2 separate regions of the Homo sapiens genome follow, and region 2 is linked to region 1. Evidence: fine-mapped expression QTL. Tissue or cell type: whole blood. Region 1 holds a variant in brackets; the other region holds the start of a gene. All regions are shown on one strand. Distances are between the middles of the regions. Region 1 overlaps DTL (denticleless E3 ubiquitin protein ligase adapter). Region 2 holds the start of INTS7 (integrator complex subunit 7).

Evidence for each region. PIP is the estimated chance that this variant, and not a neighbour inherited with it, causes the effect.
Region 2: INTS7 starts here. The variant in region 1 is fine-mapped to the expression of INTS7 in whole blood (TOPMed, PIP 0.97).

What each region holds. Positions count from the first base shown.
Region 1 is chr1:212,060,771-212,069,903 of GRCh38, forward strand. It overlaps DTL (denticleless E3 ubiquitin protein ligase adapter), which reads left to right. Exons shown (of 15, transcript NM_016448.4): 6 at 2,114-2,179; 7 at 4,147-4,259; 8 at 6,042-6,115; 9 at 7,454-7,557; 10 at 7,829-7,933. Among named protein-coding and RNA genes, the nearest start is that of MIR3122, 12 kb to the right of the region's middle. The variant G/A (reference allele first, on the strand shown) is at 3,686.
Region 2 is chr1:212,031,739-212,040,871 of GRCh38, forward strand. It overlaps INTS7 (integrator complex subunit 7), which reads right to left and starts at 3,819. Exons shown (of 20, transcript NM_015434.4): 1 at 3,606-3,819. The coding sequence starts at 3,699. DTL (denticleless E3 ubiquitin protein ligase adapter) reads left to right here and starts at 4,010. Exons shown (of 15, transcript NM_016448.4): 1 at 4,010-4,204. The coding sequence starts at 4,153. RefSeq lists enhancers at 3,670-3,879, 3,758-4,294, 4,040-4,279, 4,295-4,829.

The sequences.
Region 1 (9,133 bases):
ACTTAAATGTAAGACCTGAAACAATAGAACTACTAGAAGAAAACATAGGGAAAACACTTCAGGATATTGGTTTAGGCAAAGATTTTATGGCTGGCCAAGAACTCAAAAGCACAGACAACAAGAACAAATAGATAAACTAGACTATACTAAACTAAAAAGCTTCTGCATGCCAAAACTTTTTGAATGGGAAGTATTTGCAAACTATTTATCTGATAAGGGAATAATATGTAGAATGTATACAAGGAACTCGAACAACTCAACAGTAGAAAAGACAAAATATTAAAAAGTAGGCAAACACAGACTGGGCAATGTGCCAAAACTGTCTCTACAAAGAAATACAAAAAAATTAACTGGGCATGGTGGTGTACTACTGTAGTCCCAGCTACTTGGTGGGGCTGAGATGAGAGGATCACTGAGCCCTGAGCGGTGATTACATCGCTGTACTCCAGCCTGAGTGATAGAGTGAGATCCTGTCTCAAAAAAAAAAAAAAAGTAGGCAAAGACCATGAATAGACATTTCGCGAAAGAAGACATACAAATGGCCAACAGGTATGTGAAAAACTGCTCAACATGACTAATAACCACAGTGAGATATCATCTTAACCCAGTTAGAATGGCTATTATTAAACAAAACATGCTGGCAAGGATGTGGAGAAAAGAGAACTCTTGTACACTGTTGGTGGAAATGTAAATTAGTCCAGTCACTATGGAAAACAGTAAGATTTCTCAAAAAAAAAAAAACAAATAGAATTACCATTGATCTAGCAGTCTCATTATTGGGTATTGATTCAAAGACAAACAGTATATCAAAGGAATAACTGCAGTCACATTGTTGCAGCACTATTCACAATAGCCAAGATATGGAATCAACCTGTCTATTAACGAACAAATAGAGTTTTTAAAAATGTAGTATATACACAATTGAATACTATTTGGCCATAAGGAAATGTCATTCACATCAACATTATGTTAAACAAGCCAGGCACAAAAGATAAATTTCACATGTTCCCATTTATATGTGGGTGCTAAAACAGTATCATGGAGGTAGAGAGTAGAATGATAAATAACCAGAGGCTGGAAAGTGAGTGGGTGTGAGGGGGGAATGAAGAAAGGTTGCTTGATGGATACAAGCATAAAGTTAGATAGAAGGTGTAAGTTCCATTGTTCGATACCTGACTATTGTCACCTTACAAATTATTGTATATTTCAAGCAGCTAGAAGAGAGAACTTAAAATGTTCCCAGCACATAGAAATGATGAATACAAGGTGATGGATACCCCAGATACCCTGACTTGATCATAACACATTCTATGCAGGCATCAAAATATCACATATACCCCATAAATATGTAAAATACTATGTATCAGTAAGAAAAATTGCATGTTTTCATTCAGTTTCCACAGAGCCCTCAGGTAGCTGTTTTTGTGTTTTATCCCATGTACAACTAATGCAAGTGGATTAGTTTAAGTGCTCACTCTTTCACACAGGAAGCAGGGTTTTTTTCTGGCTTAATTTTAAAGAATAAAACATTACAGATAAATTGAAGTTCTCCTATAGTGCCTTTTCCAATCCCATTGCATCCCAGGCAACCTCTTTAACAAACTTCATATGGATCTGGTCCATATTTTTATACTGAGCCAATACAGTTTAGAGGTTTGGAGTGTAAGCTCTGGATTCATACTGCCAGGAATACCTTTACAAGTTACTTATCCTCTCTGTGCCTCTCTTGGTACTTACCTAATAAGGTTGATAGCAAGGATTGAGATAATTTTTATAAAACACGCGGGATAGTAGCTAACATTTAGAATAAGAAGCACTCTGTATTTTGACTCTTGATTGTTATTCTTATTACAACTGTACTATATATTTTATATGGGTTTTAAAAAATTTACAGAGGGGTGATTCTATGAAGTTTTGGTTCAACATTAGCATCTCAAGCTCTTCATAATCCTTTTTCCTATTTGTTATTGAGCCATATATTTTTAAATGTTTGATCTCCAGTGACAGATACAGTACCTAGCACATAATAGATAGTCTACAAAATGTAAACTGAAATATATGTGTCATTGACTGGTTTTGTTAACCTCTTAATAATCTGTTTATTTCCCCACAGCTGTATTCTGTACGGGTGGAAGAGATGGCAACATTATGGTCTGGGATACCAGGTGCAACAAAAAAGGTTATCTAGATCTATTTTAATTTTGAGAGATTTGGGATTACCCTGTACTTAATTTTGAGTGAAAGAGTTAGTGATTTCATCTGATTACCACCAGGGGGCATGTACTCATAATTTCCCATTTCTGCTCACTGTTCCAGATCTCAGGATCTTCACTGAGTGTCCTGAGTGATAAATACATGAGTGTCACTGTTACAAGTATTACACTCATGTATTTATCTCATATTGTCTTCTGAATTATAATGCCATTTACCCACATTATTGATGGACTTAAAAATATTAATACGCAGCCTCACTGGTAAATGTCTTTATTTTGGTTTTTAAGAATTTTTTTTATTTTATTATTATTATTTTTTTTTTTTTTGAGATGGAGTCTCTGTCACCCAGGCTGGAGTGCAGTGGCGTGAACTTGGCTCACTGCACTCCCCACCCGCTGGGTTCCAGCAATTCCTCTAGCTCAGCCTCCTGAGTAGCTGGGATTACAGCCACCCGCCACCATGCCTGGCTAATTTTTGTATTTTTTTAATAGAAATGGGGTTTCACTATGTTGGCCAGGCTGGTCTCAAACTCCTGACCTCAAGTGATCTGCCCACCCTGGCCTCCCAAAGTGCTGAAATTACAGGCGTGAGTCACCAGGCCCAGCCTGATTTTAAAGAATTAGATTGAATTAAACATAAGCTCATGGTTGTCTCATGATGCTATTAAGCAGACGATGATTATCTCACTGTTCACTTTTAGTTAATTTATTAAAATTTTTTTTTGTGTCTGCATTTTAAAAAATTGGTAACATAGTTCTACATATTTTCAGGGGTATATGTGATATCTTGATACATATATAGAACATGAAATGATCAAATCAGGATAATTGGGATATCCATCACCTCAAACATTTATCTTTTCTTTGTGTTGGGAACATTACAATTCTTCTCTTCTGGTTTTTTGTTTCTTGTTTTTTTTTTTTTTGGAGACGGAGTCTCACTCTGTCACCCAGGCTGGAGTGCAGTGGCGTGATCTCATCTCGCTGCAACCTCCGCCTCCTGGGTTCAAGTAATTCTCCTACCTCAGCCTCTCAAGTAGCTGGGATTACAGGTGCATGCCACCACTCCCAGCTAGTTATGTATTTTTAGTACAGACAGGATTTCACCATGTTGGCCAGGCTGATCTGGAACTCCTGACCTCAGGCAATCTGCCTGCCTCAGCCTCCCATTCTTCTAGCTATTTTGAAATAAATAATAAAATTATTTAGAAAAATTTTAATAAACCTTATTTTGTAGAGCAGTTTTAGGTTCACAGCAAAACTGAGCAGAAAGTACAGAGAGTTCCCATATAGCCCCTGCCCTGCCCACACACAGACTTCCCCACTGACAACATCCTGTGCCTGAGTGGTACATTTGTTATAATCAGTTAACCTATGTCAACACATGCTGTCACTCAGAGTTTATAATTTACATCAGTGTTATATATTCTTAGTATTACACATTCTGTGGATATTGACAAATGTGTAATGAC[G/A]TGCGTCCACCATTGTAGCATCATACACAATAGTTTCACTACTCTAGAAATCCTCTGTGCTCCAGTTATTCATCCCTACCTCCCTCTAAGCCCTGGCAACCACTGATCTTATTACTTCCCCCAGTCACATTTCCTCCATGTCATTTTATGGCTTTATCAAGCTCATTTCTTTCCAGTGCTGAATAATATTCCATTGTCTGGATGAACCAAAGTTTATCCATTCACCTACTGAAGGACATCTTGGTTGTTTCCAAGTTTTGGCAATTATTAAAGCTGTTATAAACATCTCTCCCTTTTTATACATTATAGTCTCACCACAGGAGATGTAGTGCAGCTGGCTCTGCTGGCTTCTAATTTCACCAACTTGGTCAAAAATTACTTAATATTGAAGTTTTATTTACACATGTTATATTCAGCATGTAAGAATCCTGAAACCTAAATTTCCTTGGAATATCTTTCAGATGGGTTTTATAGGCAAGTGAATCAAATCAGTGGAGCTCACAATACCTCAGACAAGCAAACCCCTTCAAAACCCAAGAAGAAACAGAATTCAAAAGGACTTGCTCCTTCTGTGGTAAGGTTTTACAGATGTATACATGTGTGCAGATCTTATCTGTAGGATAGAATAAATGGGAGGCTATTGATTAAGTGAATGAGAATCTTCATGATTCTCATTTGATATCAGTGGTTTATTGCTTATTCAGTACCTACATTTGTGGTTCTCAAATTTTAATTTTTGGTTCTTCTGAATTATAATGCCATTTACCTATATTATTGATGGAATTAAAATATATGTAGCCTCGTTGATAAATATCTTTAAATTTATTTTGGTTTTAAAGAATTAGATTGAATTAAACATAAGATGTTGTCTCATGCCATTAAGCAGAAAGTGGTTTTTTTTTTTACAATTTCAATATCTACATTTTAAAAAATTGATAACATAATTTTACATATTTTGGGGGGTACACTATGTATAATGATCAAATCAGGGTAATTGAGATAGCCATCACTTCAAATACTGTGTGCATCAGAGTTGCCTGAGGCACATGTTGAAAATTCACCTTACTCATCCCTAAAAATCTCTCTACACACACAGACACAAACACACACACACAAACACACCCCTATAGTATAGTGGAATTCATTAGGAAAAGTGGGGGAGGAGTAGTTTGAAGAAGCATATTAAGTACTGTGATGCAGTTTTCTAAGGGGAAAGAATACCTGTTGTTTTCGTAATACAAACTACAGAAAAATATGTTTTTTGTTTTGAGACAGAGTCTCGCTCTGTCACCCAGGCTGGAGTGCAGTGGCGCAATCTTGGCTCACTGCAAGCACCGCCTCCCAGGTTCACACCATTCTCCTGCCTCAGCCTCCCAAGTAGCTGGGACTACAGGTGCCCACCACCACGCCCAGCTAATTTTTTGTTTTTTTAGTAGAGACGGGGTTTCACCGTGTTAGCCAGGATAGCCTCAATCTCCTGACCTCGTGAGCCTCCCAAAGTGCTGGGATTACCGATGTGAGCCACCACGCCTGGCCAGCTTATTTTTAAGCATTTGACAAAATATTGTTAAATATATTGAGAAACACATGGGTAGAACATAGTACCACTCTAATAACTTACAGTCAGAGCTCAAACAATGCCCATAATATATCCTTTTTCTTTAAAAAATTGCCCTTTTTCTCACTTTAATGTAATTTTTTTTTCATATTCCTGGTGTGTAGGGTACAAGTTAATATTTTGGGGGAAGTATGACTGCTAAGACATTAAGACTTAAAACTATACACCGTGAACAGGACACAAGCATGAATGGAAGCAGATAGTAGAGGCCATATGAAGTTAAAACGAGTAGCATTTCAGACATTTAATCTGGTTCTGAGCCAAGATAACTTGTTAAGTAATAGCAATTAGGAGGTACGACTCCACTGGGCCTCTTTTTCAGGGCATGAAATAATCTTTTATTCATAATTCTTTTGATACTCCTATATGATAATCTAGGTAGACAGCAACATTTTAGAGATTAAACTGGCACAAGAAAGTTAAATAAGTTTCCTAAGGATACACACAGCATATTAGTAGGGCTGAGTCTAAGTAGATGCAGTAGGCTCAGACGAGCAAAATCTTTTAGTCACCAGTTTGTTTTTTGAGTATAAGTTGAAATATTAACACTGTATACTAAAACTTAATGATCCTTGCTAAAATTACCTCTTGGTCAGCATATATATCTGATCGAGATCATTAGACAAGACTTCATCTAAGTCAGTCTGGGGAGAAAAGTCGTTTTTTAGCACCTTGTTCCCTTGATGGTAAAGATTATGATGCCCAAGATAGAATCTTCTTCTTTTCTTGTGCTATCAGGATTTCCAGCAAAGTGTTACTGTGGTCCTCTTTCAAGACGAGAATACCTTAGTCTCAGCAGGAGCTGTGGATGGGTAAGAGTCTATTTCTTTTTTCTTCCGACGAGATCTTTTTTATGAGATTGTGATGAGGCAGTCACATAGTCTCATTATAATTGAATGTGTGTGCTTTCAACTGTCAACATAGCAAGTACCCCAACTGAGGAAAGGAGCTATAGATCACATTGGAAAATACCTAGTTGAAGGACTCTTGCTGGATAATTAAATGAAAGAATACATGTGTCACGCTTAGCACATTGTCTAGCACATAAGAGCAGTGGTAGCTGCTGTTGCTATCTTAGAAAAGAAGCTGGCTGGGTAGCTTGCTTGCCTTATGCAATATAATTTAGTCACTAATTCTCATTTTGAAGAGTAAAATTTCTGTTACTTTGGGTTTTGTCTTTTTCAGGTTTAAGAATATCCTAAAAGAAGAAATCTGATTCTGGGGATGTAATTGACATTTCTGGGAGTAATCTAACTAGATTGATGATAGTAAGGTCTAATGACTTTCACATACCTGTCATCCATGATTAGTCTGAATTCTTGGCTTCCAAATAAGTCTGCTCTGTGATGCTTGTTGATTGTGTTGTAGAATATTAATTCTATGCAAATGGAGACTCTTTCTTTTTAAGTTTCCTTCCTATTATATCTCTCAAGGCATCCTTCTCTTAAAATTTTTAATTTAAAAGATGATGGCTTACCAAACTAGGATTTCCATTGTGTCCTCTGGGCACTAAAACCCTCTGAACCAAATTCTCAGGCAGGAATGAAGGATTATCTAAAGGTTATTAGTTCTGCTTGTGAATGACTGTGAAAGCTTGCTCTGTTTGTTTCCAAGAATACTGTCATTTCATAGCAGGTCTGTGTTTTCAAGTTACCTTTATACTAGAAGTAGAGGATTAAGACAATTATCTCAATAGATGAAATGAAAAAATACTTTATTTCACAGAACAATTTGTTTAGATTATTTAAAGAGTTATGTATGGAGATATAACCACAGGGACAGAACTTGCTACTTATGATATCAAAAATATATGCAGAATATTAAAGGCTTAGGAAGTGTATTTTCTAAAAACAATGGAACAATTACTATCGGCACTCAACCTTCATCTTCCTTTTCCGTTCTCTTAGAGTAAACTCCAGTAACCCATCACTGGGTCAAATCACATCTGTTTCCGTTCTGTCAGAATTATAAGCCTGATATTGGAGACAACAGTATAAGATACTTTAATTTGTTTCCCAATGAAATATCCTTACTGTACCTAGTTAATGTGCCAGAGGAGTTAGATTAAAAGTCATTTCACATTTAGTGTAGTTGAAGTTGTTTGGGGTTGGAAGAAGGTCTACAAAATATTTATTTGCCTTGGTTTTTAGGATAATCAAAGTATGGGATTTACGTAAGAATTATACTGCTTATCGACAAGAACCCATAGCATCCAAGTCTTTCCTGTACCCAGGTAGCAGCACTCGAAAACTTGGTAAGCCTTTAATAGGTCTTTTGGGGGAGATAAGAGTTTTTGTTTAAAAAAAAAAAAAAAGGCTAATTTCCAGTAACATTGATATGAAAAATTCTAATATGTGAAGTTCAAAAGATAAAAACTCAGAAGAATGTTTTTGGTTTGTGTATATTTTGGGGACAAAGAATTCTGATGATGATTCTTATGAAATGATCTATTTTTGTCTCTACATTTTAACCTCAGATCTACTCACCATCATCAGGACGTGCTAACTTAAGTTTCCTTTTTCCAGGATATTCAAGTCTGATTTTGGATTCCACTGGCTCTACTTTATTTGCTAATTGCACAGACGATAACATCTACATGTTTAATATGACTGGGTTGAAGACTTCTCCAGGTAAGATATTAGTCATTCAAATTCTCTTACCAGGAAAGCATTATGGGCTTTTTTTGGTAATGATAATTTAATGGGCTTTCTTCTAAACTGAACTTATTAAGCCATATGAGGACTTTGGCATCTTTGATTACATCCAGTGATAATTTCATAAGTGTACATTCCTTGTGATGATTTCATAAGTTAGCTGAATTGTGCTTTACATGGTGACTTTATTTTAATAGAGAGTATCTCCTGAAATTATGCCCTTTGGCCTATATTTAGAATTCTCTCAATTTTTTATTTAATAAGCTGTGGAGTAGATAAAGTGCTTCTGCTCAGCTTTTTTCCTCTTTAGGGGCTGCTGGTTAAAATTAGGGGGCTGAAATTTTCATACCCCCAAAATAGTTTCAGCCTATCTCAGCCTTCTCCTTAATGTTAGAGGCCCTTTTATTTCTAGATGTTTTCCCCAGCCTCACCTTTTTTTTTTCCTCAAAACTTTAAAAATAGAATCTGATACTTAAAACTAATAAATAAATGATAGTTTTAAAAAGAAAACCCAAGTTTCTCAAGCATGCTTTCCTCTTTTTTTTAATCCTCTCCCCTCCCTCTTCCAAATCACCAGCCTCAGGCATGCTTTAAGAGAGTTATTTGGGTTACATTATTTTTAAGAACATCAATTTCTTAAGCAACATCTTAGTAGCCTGGTTATTCCTCATCTATAGATCTTTCAAAAACACTTTGAATTCCATAACCAATCCTCAGAGTTACCCAGTTTCCACTAAAGTAAAAAGTGCTGATAAACAAGAAATCTCAAGTACAGAACTTGTTTTATTTTATTTATAGATAGATGTAGATATAGATATAAATTTTTTTTTTTTTTTGAGACGGAGTTTCACTCTGTTGCCCAGGCTGGAGTGCAGTGGTTCGATCTCGGCTCACTGCACCCTCCGCCTCCTGGGTTCAAGCAATTCTCCTGCCTCAGCCTCCCAAGTAGCTGGGATTACAGGCGCCCGCCACCATGCCTGGCTAATTTTTGTATTTTTAGTAAAGGCAGGGTTTCACCTTGTTGGTCAGGCTGGTCTCGAACTCCTGACCTCATGATCCACCCACCTCAGCCTCCCAAAGTGCTGGGATTACAGGCGTGAGCCACCATGCCCGGCCCAGAACTTGTCATTTTAGCTGAGATCTTACAGAATTTTCCAAAGATCACCCCAAGCAATC
Region 2 (9,133 bases), 29 kb before region 1:
TTTCCTGTTACTAACTACATCCTAAAGTAATGGAATTGAGTCAGCTTCAAAATAGTATTCACTTATTCCTATAGAGATCAGAAACAATCAGCTTACTGCCAATGCTTGCTCAAAAGGCTCAGAATAAAGTACAACAGTTATAAATATATAACAGGTTATGAATGGCAGCATTTCCTGAGTGTGTTTCTAAGGACACCAGTGCCACAAAATATTTCTTTAAAATAGCGTTCAAAGGTTACATCTTATGCCTAACTGACTAATCATCTCCATTTGGATGTCTAAGAGACATCTCAAATTTAACATGACCCAAACTGATTTGATTTCAGTAAACAATACATACATCCTCCCAGTAGCTCATACCAAAAACCTCTAAGTTTTCTTGACCACTTACTCTTATATCCTCATCTAATCCATTAGCAAATCTTCTTGGCTCTACTTTGAAAGTATATCCAGAATCTCAGCACTTCACACATTTTCAGTGTCACCATCTCGGTCTAAGCCACTATTTTCTTTTCCCTGGATTGTTATAGTTGCCTTCTCATTGGTCTCCCTACTTGGGTCCCTGACCCTCCCCACTTCAGTCTATTCTCAGCACAGTAGCCAGACTGATACTTTTCAAAGGAAAGTCAGATCATGTCACACACCTGCTGAAAATCCTCCATGGTTTCCTTTCTCACTCAGAATGAAAGCCAGTCCTTTTGATGGCTTGCACGGCCCTACCTGAACGGGACTCTGGTTATCTTTCTTTTTTTTTTTTCGAGACAGTCTTGCTCTGTTGCCCAGACTGGAGTGCAGTGGTGTGATCTCGGCTCACTGGAAGCCCCGCCTCCCAGGTTCACGCCATTCTCCTGCCTCAGCCTCCCAAGTAGCTGGAACTACAGGTGCCCACCACCACGCCTGGCTAATTTTTTGTATTTTGTTTAGTAGAGACAGGGTTTCACCATGTTAGCCAGGATGGTCTCGATCTCCTGACTTCGTGATCCGCCCGCCTCAGCTTCCCAAAGTGCGGGGATTACAGGCGTGAACCACCACGCCCGACTGACTCTGGTTATCTTTCTATACTCATTGCCTATTACTTTGCTCCAGATAACTGCATGCAAAGGAGGCTTCTACCTCAGGGCCTTTGTACTTGCTGTTCTTCCACTTGATTGAGGAGGTCTTTCTTGCCTATACTTCATAAAATAAGAAATCAACTCCAGCCCCAGATCAGTTTTCTCCAGTCCCTTTCATTGCTTCATTTTCCTTTATAATATGTATCACTAACTGTCACGTTTGCTATATTTGCGGAGTGTCTGCATCTGCTGTCTAGAATGTAAGCTCTATAGGGGCAGGAGTTTTGTCTCATTAACTGCCATGTTCCTAGTACAAAGCCCGATCAAATAAGTCATGTGTCTGAGTGTGTATGCTGAGGTGGGGGAGATATTTCAGAAACAGTATTCCTTGGAGTTTGGGAACGAAAAAAAGAGTTGGAACTTGTAGCCTTCTGACCTTTAGCTCACAAAACAGAAATACTTTAACAGGTACAAGATGAAATGACTCAATATTTAAAATACTCAACTATATTCTACACGAAACTGGCTATTTCTATAACTTAATTTCCTAACAGCTTTAAAAGTTACTACAGATGAGATGAAAAAGAACAAGTCATCTTTCTGAGCCTGAGATTCACCTGTAAAACACTCACGCCAGGCATTGCTGGGAGGAGTGCAAATGATCACTTACTCTGTGTCTAAGATTGACACCTGATTTCTTTCCTATAGATATAAAATATTTTCATTTCAACTCTTCTTTAAAAAGGAAAAATTGTGGTTTTTTTCTTACAACTGCAAAATTTGAGGAATTAAACCATTCTAGACTCCTCTTCAGTGCCCCATCTTTATCCCTGTTCCACAACCACTATCCTATTGTCAGCATGAGACAAGCTCAGCTGCACCAGAATGGTAGAAAATGTCCTTAGAACTCGTAGGGATATTAGATATTATCCTGACCTGTAACTTTCACTGAGGAATAAGAAAGAAATGTATCAGAATGAGGAGGAAAGTGTTTGAAAAACACATTTAAGGCCGGGCGCGGTGGCTCATGCCTGTAAATCCCAGCACTTTGGAAGGCCGAGGCGGACGGATCACCTGAGGTCAGGAGTTGGAGACCAGCCTGGCCAACATGGTGAAACCCCGTCTATACTAAAAATACAAAAATTAGCCGGGCGTGGTGGCGGGCGCCTGTAATTCCAGCTACTCGGGAGGCTGAGGCAGGAGAACCGTTTGAACTCGGGAGGCGGAGGTTGCAGTGAGCCGAGATGGCGCCACTGCACTCTAGCCTGGGCAACAGAGCAACACTCTGTCTCCAAAAAAAAAGAGAAAAACACATTTAGTATTATACTTTTTTTTTTCAGAGGAGAAAACCCCTAAAGATTTGGTAAGAGAAGGAAAAGTTCAACATAATTTTCTTGGTTGATGGGGGTGCACTAAAGATACTGAGACTCAACCAAAGGAATATCCCATTAGGGGGCTGTGAAATTTTTGTGTTTATCAAAATAAGGTAAAAGCTTTTTTAAGAGCCTGAGAAACTCTTATTTAGACTAACCCACTAAAAATATTCACAGTTTAAAAAATAAACAGAAAAAGAGTCCCAAAAAAGTTAATAGACATGTCCAACTCAGAAAACTGGGAAGTGGCTCAAACCCTTCTGAGTTCTAGTCCAGTTCTCCAACATTATATATTGGCTACGATTAATCAAGATTTAATTGTATACCAGCTGCCGAAATGTTTCCCGTACAATAAAAATCCTCAATATGAAATAAAGGTTTCATATTACTAGTCGAGTTCTTTACTAACAAATTTCCGACCTTGCCTCCCATATCCACATCTAAGAAGGGAGGTATATCTCTTCAGCATTTACTAAATGCTTCTTTTGCATACCATTAAGTCACTTAATACAATTCTGCCGGCTCAATGGTACTGTACCCACTTTGCAGACGACAAGCCGAGGCTAGATGAAGTTAATCATAAAATCAGCGGCATTGAAACTTAACTCAGTGTAACCCCAAAGCTCCCTCTACACCAAGCTGCTCCCTGTACGGCAACAGAACTCCTGGAACTTGTCCGCAGAGAATGAGCAGGGCCCTTGCTTTTTTATGGTCTTGGCCAGGTTTAGCCTGCCTTGTAACCCGCAGGTAACAGAGCTATGGAAATCAAATGAATCGCTGTCAAGTCGGTGCAAGATTACTATTCAGCACATTTCATGAAGACCTGGTCTCAACTGAACAGACTGAAAACCAATTTCACAATTTCTTTGCAGTGTCTCTTAGAAACTAGCCACTGTCACTGCTTAGAAAATCGGGGGACTGCTCCCTCAAGTGGTCAAAACGGGCCTCTCACTAGAGCTCGCTACTTGTTTAGCCGGTATAAGGCCAGTCACACAATCCTGCAAATTTCCCGCAACCTCCCGAAGGGGTCAAAGCCCACGCCCCAGCAAAAGCACAGGCGCTCCCCGCCCAGCGAAGACATGCGCATGCGCCTATCCGTCTTCTCCCAAAGCAACCACCACCTGGTGGCGCCACTTCCCCCCACGCCTGTTTCACCCATTCAGCCCTCTCTTTCGAATACCTTTGTCCAATTCCATAAGGGCAGAGTTGGCATCCAGTTCCTGTTCGCCATAGCCGGCATCTGCCAGGAAAGACTTAGTTGAGTTTGACGCCATGACCCGAATAGTTACTCGACTAGCCTAGTCAGAAAGCTTGCAAACTCTACCCCAGGACCGCCATCTTCCCCCGCCGCCTTCTTGCTGGTTTTTCTTCCGCGCGCTGTCAAGCCCTGTTACGCATGCGCCCTGGTCACCCCGCGGTTTGTCCGCGCCTCTGCTACCCCCTGCGCAGGCGCTCAAGGAGCTCTTGGACTCCAGGTTCCCGCGGCTGGGAGAAAAGGAGGCGGGGATCCGAAGGGGGAAATGACTCTGAGGCGCCCGGACGTCGCTCGGAAGCCAATCAGAGAGCGTGACGTCAGTTTGGCGCGGAGTTTGGCGGCCGGGGCTTACAGTGGCGGGAGTTGGAGGCGATAACGATTTGTGTTGTGAGAGGCGCAAGCTGCGATTTCTGCTGAACTTGGAGGCATTTCTACGACTTTTCTCTCAGCTGAGGCTTTTCCTCCGACCCTGATGCTCTTCAATTCGGTGCTCCGCCAGCCCCAGCTTGGCGTCCTGAGAAATGGTGAGTAACGGTCCCAACCGCTGCTCGGAGCTGGCGGAATTCATTTCCCCCGAAACACACGCCACCTCCGACCAGGGCCGACTCCAATTCTGAACTCAGCTTCTGAGTTCTCCCATGGCAAGGGTAAATTAGTGTTAGCAGGGACTACTAAAGAAAGCTGTACTTTCATCCCCTCGGGACACTTGTAATCGTAATCGGGCTTTTAAAATCGTAACGTAGGCAGGGACGTCGAAATAACTGCCTTCCAAGGCCCCTTACAGCTTACATCTCCATTGCGCGTTAACGGGAAAATGCATGCATTTGTGTGTATATGTTTCCTTCAACGGTTATTTGAGATGCTCAAAACTCCTAATCATTGATTAATTCATTCGTTTGTTGTAGAATCTTAGTGAGCCCAGCTATGTGCTATAGGTATATACCAGTGAATATGACCCGCTGTTAAGGAACTCAGTCAAGCAGAGAAGACAGGATATCTGCTTCTAACAGGAACAAAATCTTATTTTCCCCGTTTACTACACGGTCATAAAAATTTAAATTATAGAGTGAAAGATGCCTGTAACCACATCCGCCAGAGATGACCCCTGTTAATAGATTGAAGTATATTATTCCAGATGTTTTCGACGCTAGAGGTAATACCTATTATTTTCAGAAATCGGATCAAAACGTCCAGTTTTTTCACTTTAATGGTATAAGTTGAACGTATTCCCATGTTAATACGTAGAAATCTAACTTATTTTCTTACGCTAAAACATTGGCAATAAGAGATTTGAGGTTAGATTTGGATGTCATCAACTTAAACTTTTTGGTAAGTTTCAGATAAGGGAGCTAACTACCCAGATTAACCTTGGACAGAAATAAAATCTCACTCATGTGAAGGTCGACTATAGCCAGAGGTTCTTTTTCCCCTTGAAACTATGTGGAAAACGAACCTGAGAAGGGAATTTTTATATTCAGCGATGAGTCTAGGAAAATAATATTGAGAAAGAGACTGAGAAGTAGTCCCTCAACTTCCTGCTAGCAGTCTGAAACTTTATACCATCCTTATTTATTTCCCTCTTAGATAATCTTTGTAATTATACTTAAATGCTCCTCTTTCTGTCTCTCCTGGGACCTTGTTTGAGTAACTTCTTTGTCCTCTGTTTAAGAGTGACAGTACGCACAGTGGCTAAGAACTCTGTCTTTGAAGTTAAACTGCCTGGGTTTTATTATACTTCCACACCTTACTATATGTGTGTTCTGGGGGAGCTGTTCAGCCTCTATTTTGTGACAGATTTTCTCCTAATTCTCCATGTGTTTACCTTTCCCTTCCCTCTTTCCTATTCTCAAGTACTCATTCGTTGTTACATAATAGTCACTGAAATTCATTCGTTATTATATGAAATCTATAGAATCATCTCCTTTCCTCTTCAGTGTTGGTGTTCCATCCTTGACCCCTTTTCTTCTTCTACCTACTCCTTTGGATGATCACAGCCACAACCAGGGCTTCTTCCACTTCTACATACATACAACCTTCTGTTACTTATATAGTAAGTCCTCACTTAATGTCTAGATAGGCTCTTGGAAACTGTGACTTTAGGGAAAACAGTGTATAACTAAACTAACTCTACCATAGGCTACTTGATATAAATAAGAATTGTTTCAGTGGCATATTTTGGTCACACAAACACCACCGAACTTCTAAAGAAAGACTCAAAGTACTTTTAATATTAAATGTTGAAATAATTGTGTGCTATACATATATTTGAGAAAGATTAATAAAAACAGGTGAGATAATTATCCAAGTTTTGGTGTATCAGCGAGTGACCTCGGTCATAGTGGTGGTGGGCTAAATCAAGGAATAAATGTTTGCAAAGTGAAAATTGGAAGGAGCACCTCCTACCACCACCCAGGTCAAAAACAATCACAAATATGGCAGCTCACTGAGCCCTTTCATACCAAATCGTTTATTGTCATTCATTTGTATGATTATTGTAAAGTTTACCCATTTTTATTTTACAATGATTTGTATTCATTCATTTTCTGACACACTTATTCCAGCTCAGGGCTGTGGGTGCCCGGAGCCTATCCTGGCAGCTCATGGTACAAGGTGGAAACCAGCTCTAGACCAGACACTATTTCATCACAGGAAGCACTCACACACACTCATTGTCTACTGGGACCATGTAGACACACCAGTGAACCTAACATACACATCTTTGGCATGTGGGAGGAAACCAGAGTACCTGGAGAAAACCCCTATGAACATGGGAAGAGCATGTACAAACTCCACACGGCCAATGGCCTCAAACAGGAATTGATTTTTTCCTCATGAACAGTATAACGAAATGACATTGTACAAAATTATGTTATTGGAAGACTTCCTGTACCTGAGATTCATTTCTATAAAAGCTGTGTGGGTTGATTAGCACCTAGACGGTCAATCCCACAAGCATCTCAAACTCAAATACCCAAAACTGAACTCAGCTTTTCCCCCAAACCTGCAATATTACCAATTTTAGAGAGTGGCCTCATTATTTAAACCTGCCAGAAACCTGAGTAAATTAAAGACTTCTTCATCTTCCTCACAGTTACACATTCAAAACATTTCGTTAAAATCTCTTGAATCCATCCTCTCTTCTTTATCTGTTATGATTATGCATCTTTACTGTATGCTGGATGTGTTCTATTTTTACTATTCCATTTCCCTAGGTTGGGCCCTAATGCCTTCTTGTCTGGATTGTAAGAAGTCTCCCAGATGGCCTCCTAGTTTGTCTGTCTTCGGTTTATTCTCCACATTGCTGCTAATGATCCTTCTAAAATGGAAATCTGATTACTCTTCTGTGTATTTTTAAATTGATATCTAAAAGTTTTTATTATAAACTTAAACAAATGCAAAGAATATAATTTCTGACCATATTGGGAATATTGACATTTTAAAAATAAAAATGCTATATCACTCCTTTAAGTGTATCTAATATAATTTAAATACTATAGTGATTTGATAATCACATCATCCATTTTTTAGAAAAATACAAACTCCTCTTTATCTGCTGGACATTCCATATAGCTGCTTTTTCCTCTTGAATTTATTTCCATTTCATTTCTCCTACAGAATTTCTCCTAATGTAATTTAATTTTATGCTTGAAAAGCTCTTTTACTGATCACTCTGTCATACCCTTCTGTGTCAAAAAATGTGTTTAAATTGCTGTTTTCTGTCATAAGCCTCCAAGTATTAAAACTTCTTTATGGATTGAATTTTCAATTCAATTATTAGTACTATATGATTGATTAAAACAATATAGATTACCAATTTTGATAATTATTAACCAAAAGTAAAATTTTATTGGAAGTCCATCTTTTTAAAGAGATGAATTTGGGTGTTTATGGTCCCTTTATTGAAGGAATTATTTAATTATCTCTTAGTTAAGGTTCCACCAGTTTATTTGTTTTTATTTAAAAATATTTGATACCCAAAAGTTTTTATTCTTTGGATCAGTGCAAGGTTTAAGATTGGGGCACGGGAATGCCTTTCTTTTATAAAGTGGAAGAAAGGAAGTGATGAAGGGAAAGGGAAAAAGTGGTACCTCAACCTTCTCAGAGACATCAGGTTTTTCAGACAGGTGAGTTTTAGAAATGCGTATATAGTCATCCAATTGCTTATAAATGGAGATAACATTTTGAGAAATGCATCATTAGGTGATTTTATCATTGTGCAAACATCACAGAGTATAAACACAAAGCTAGATAGTGTAACTACTACACACCTAAGCTATATATTTTTCCTAGGCTATAAACCTGTGTAGCATATTACTGTATTGAATACCGTAGGCAACTGTAACACAATGGTAAGTATTTGTGTATTTAAACATAGAAAAGGTTCAGTAAAAATAGGATATAAAAGATAAAAAATGGTAACACCTGTGGAGGGTGCTTACTATGAATGGGAGCTTGCAGGACTGGGGGTTGCTGTGAGTGAATCAGTGAGTGAGTAGTCAGTCAGCACGAAGACCTGGGACATTATACTACTGTAGACTTTATAAACACTCTATACTTAGGCTGCATTAAATTGATTAAAAAATACTTTCTTCAATAATAAATTAACCTTAGCTTACTGTAACTTTTAAACTTACAAACATCTTAAATTTTTTAACTTTTTGACCCTTGTGGTAACAGGTAGCATAAAGCACAGACACATTGTATAATTGTACAAAATATTTTATTTCTTCATATTCTTATTCTATAAGTTTTTTTATTTTAAATGTTTTTCTTTTCTTAACTTTTCAAACCTTTTGTTAAAAACTAAGACACAATAGGAATTTTTAAGCTCCATTATAATGTTGTAAGACTACCATTGTGTATGCGGTCTGTCTTTGGCCAAAATGCCATTACATGGCATATGACTGTATATCGTAGTTGAGTACAGTAGTACCTCCTTATCCTTGAAGGATATGTTCCAAGACCCAACCCTATGTATGCTGTGTTTTTTACTATACAGACACATACCTATGATTAAGTTTAGGCACAGTAAGAGATTAACAATAACTAATAATAACATAGAACAATTATAACGATATTCTGTAATAAAAGTTATGTGAAGGTGGCCTCTCGGAATATCTCATGGTGCTATATACTTGCCCTTCTCATGATGATGTGAGATGATATAATACCTACAACATGAAGAGATGAAGTGAGATGAATGACGTAGGCAGGCACTGTGATATAACATTAGGCTACTACTTCCAACTATGTGACAGACAAAGCAGCTTCTATGTGATATAACATTAGGCTACTACTCCCAACTATGTGACAGACACAGCAGCTAAGTGACTAAAGAGCAGGTAACGTCTATGGCACTGCTACTCTGGACACAGGGATGATTCATATCCTGGACAGGTCAGGGTAGGACAGTGTGAAATTTTCTTGCCACTCAAAATGGCACACAATTTAAA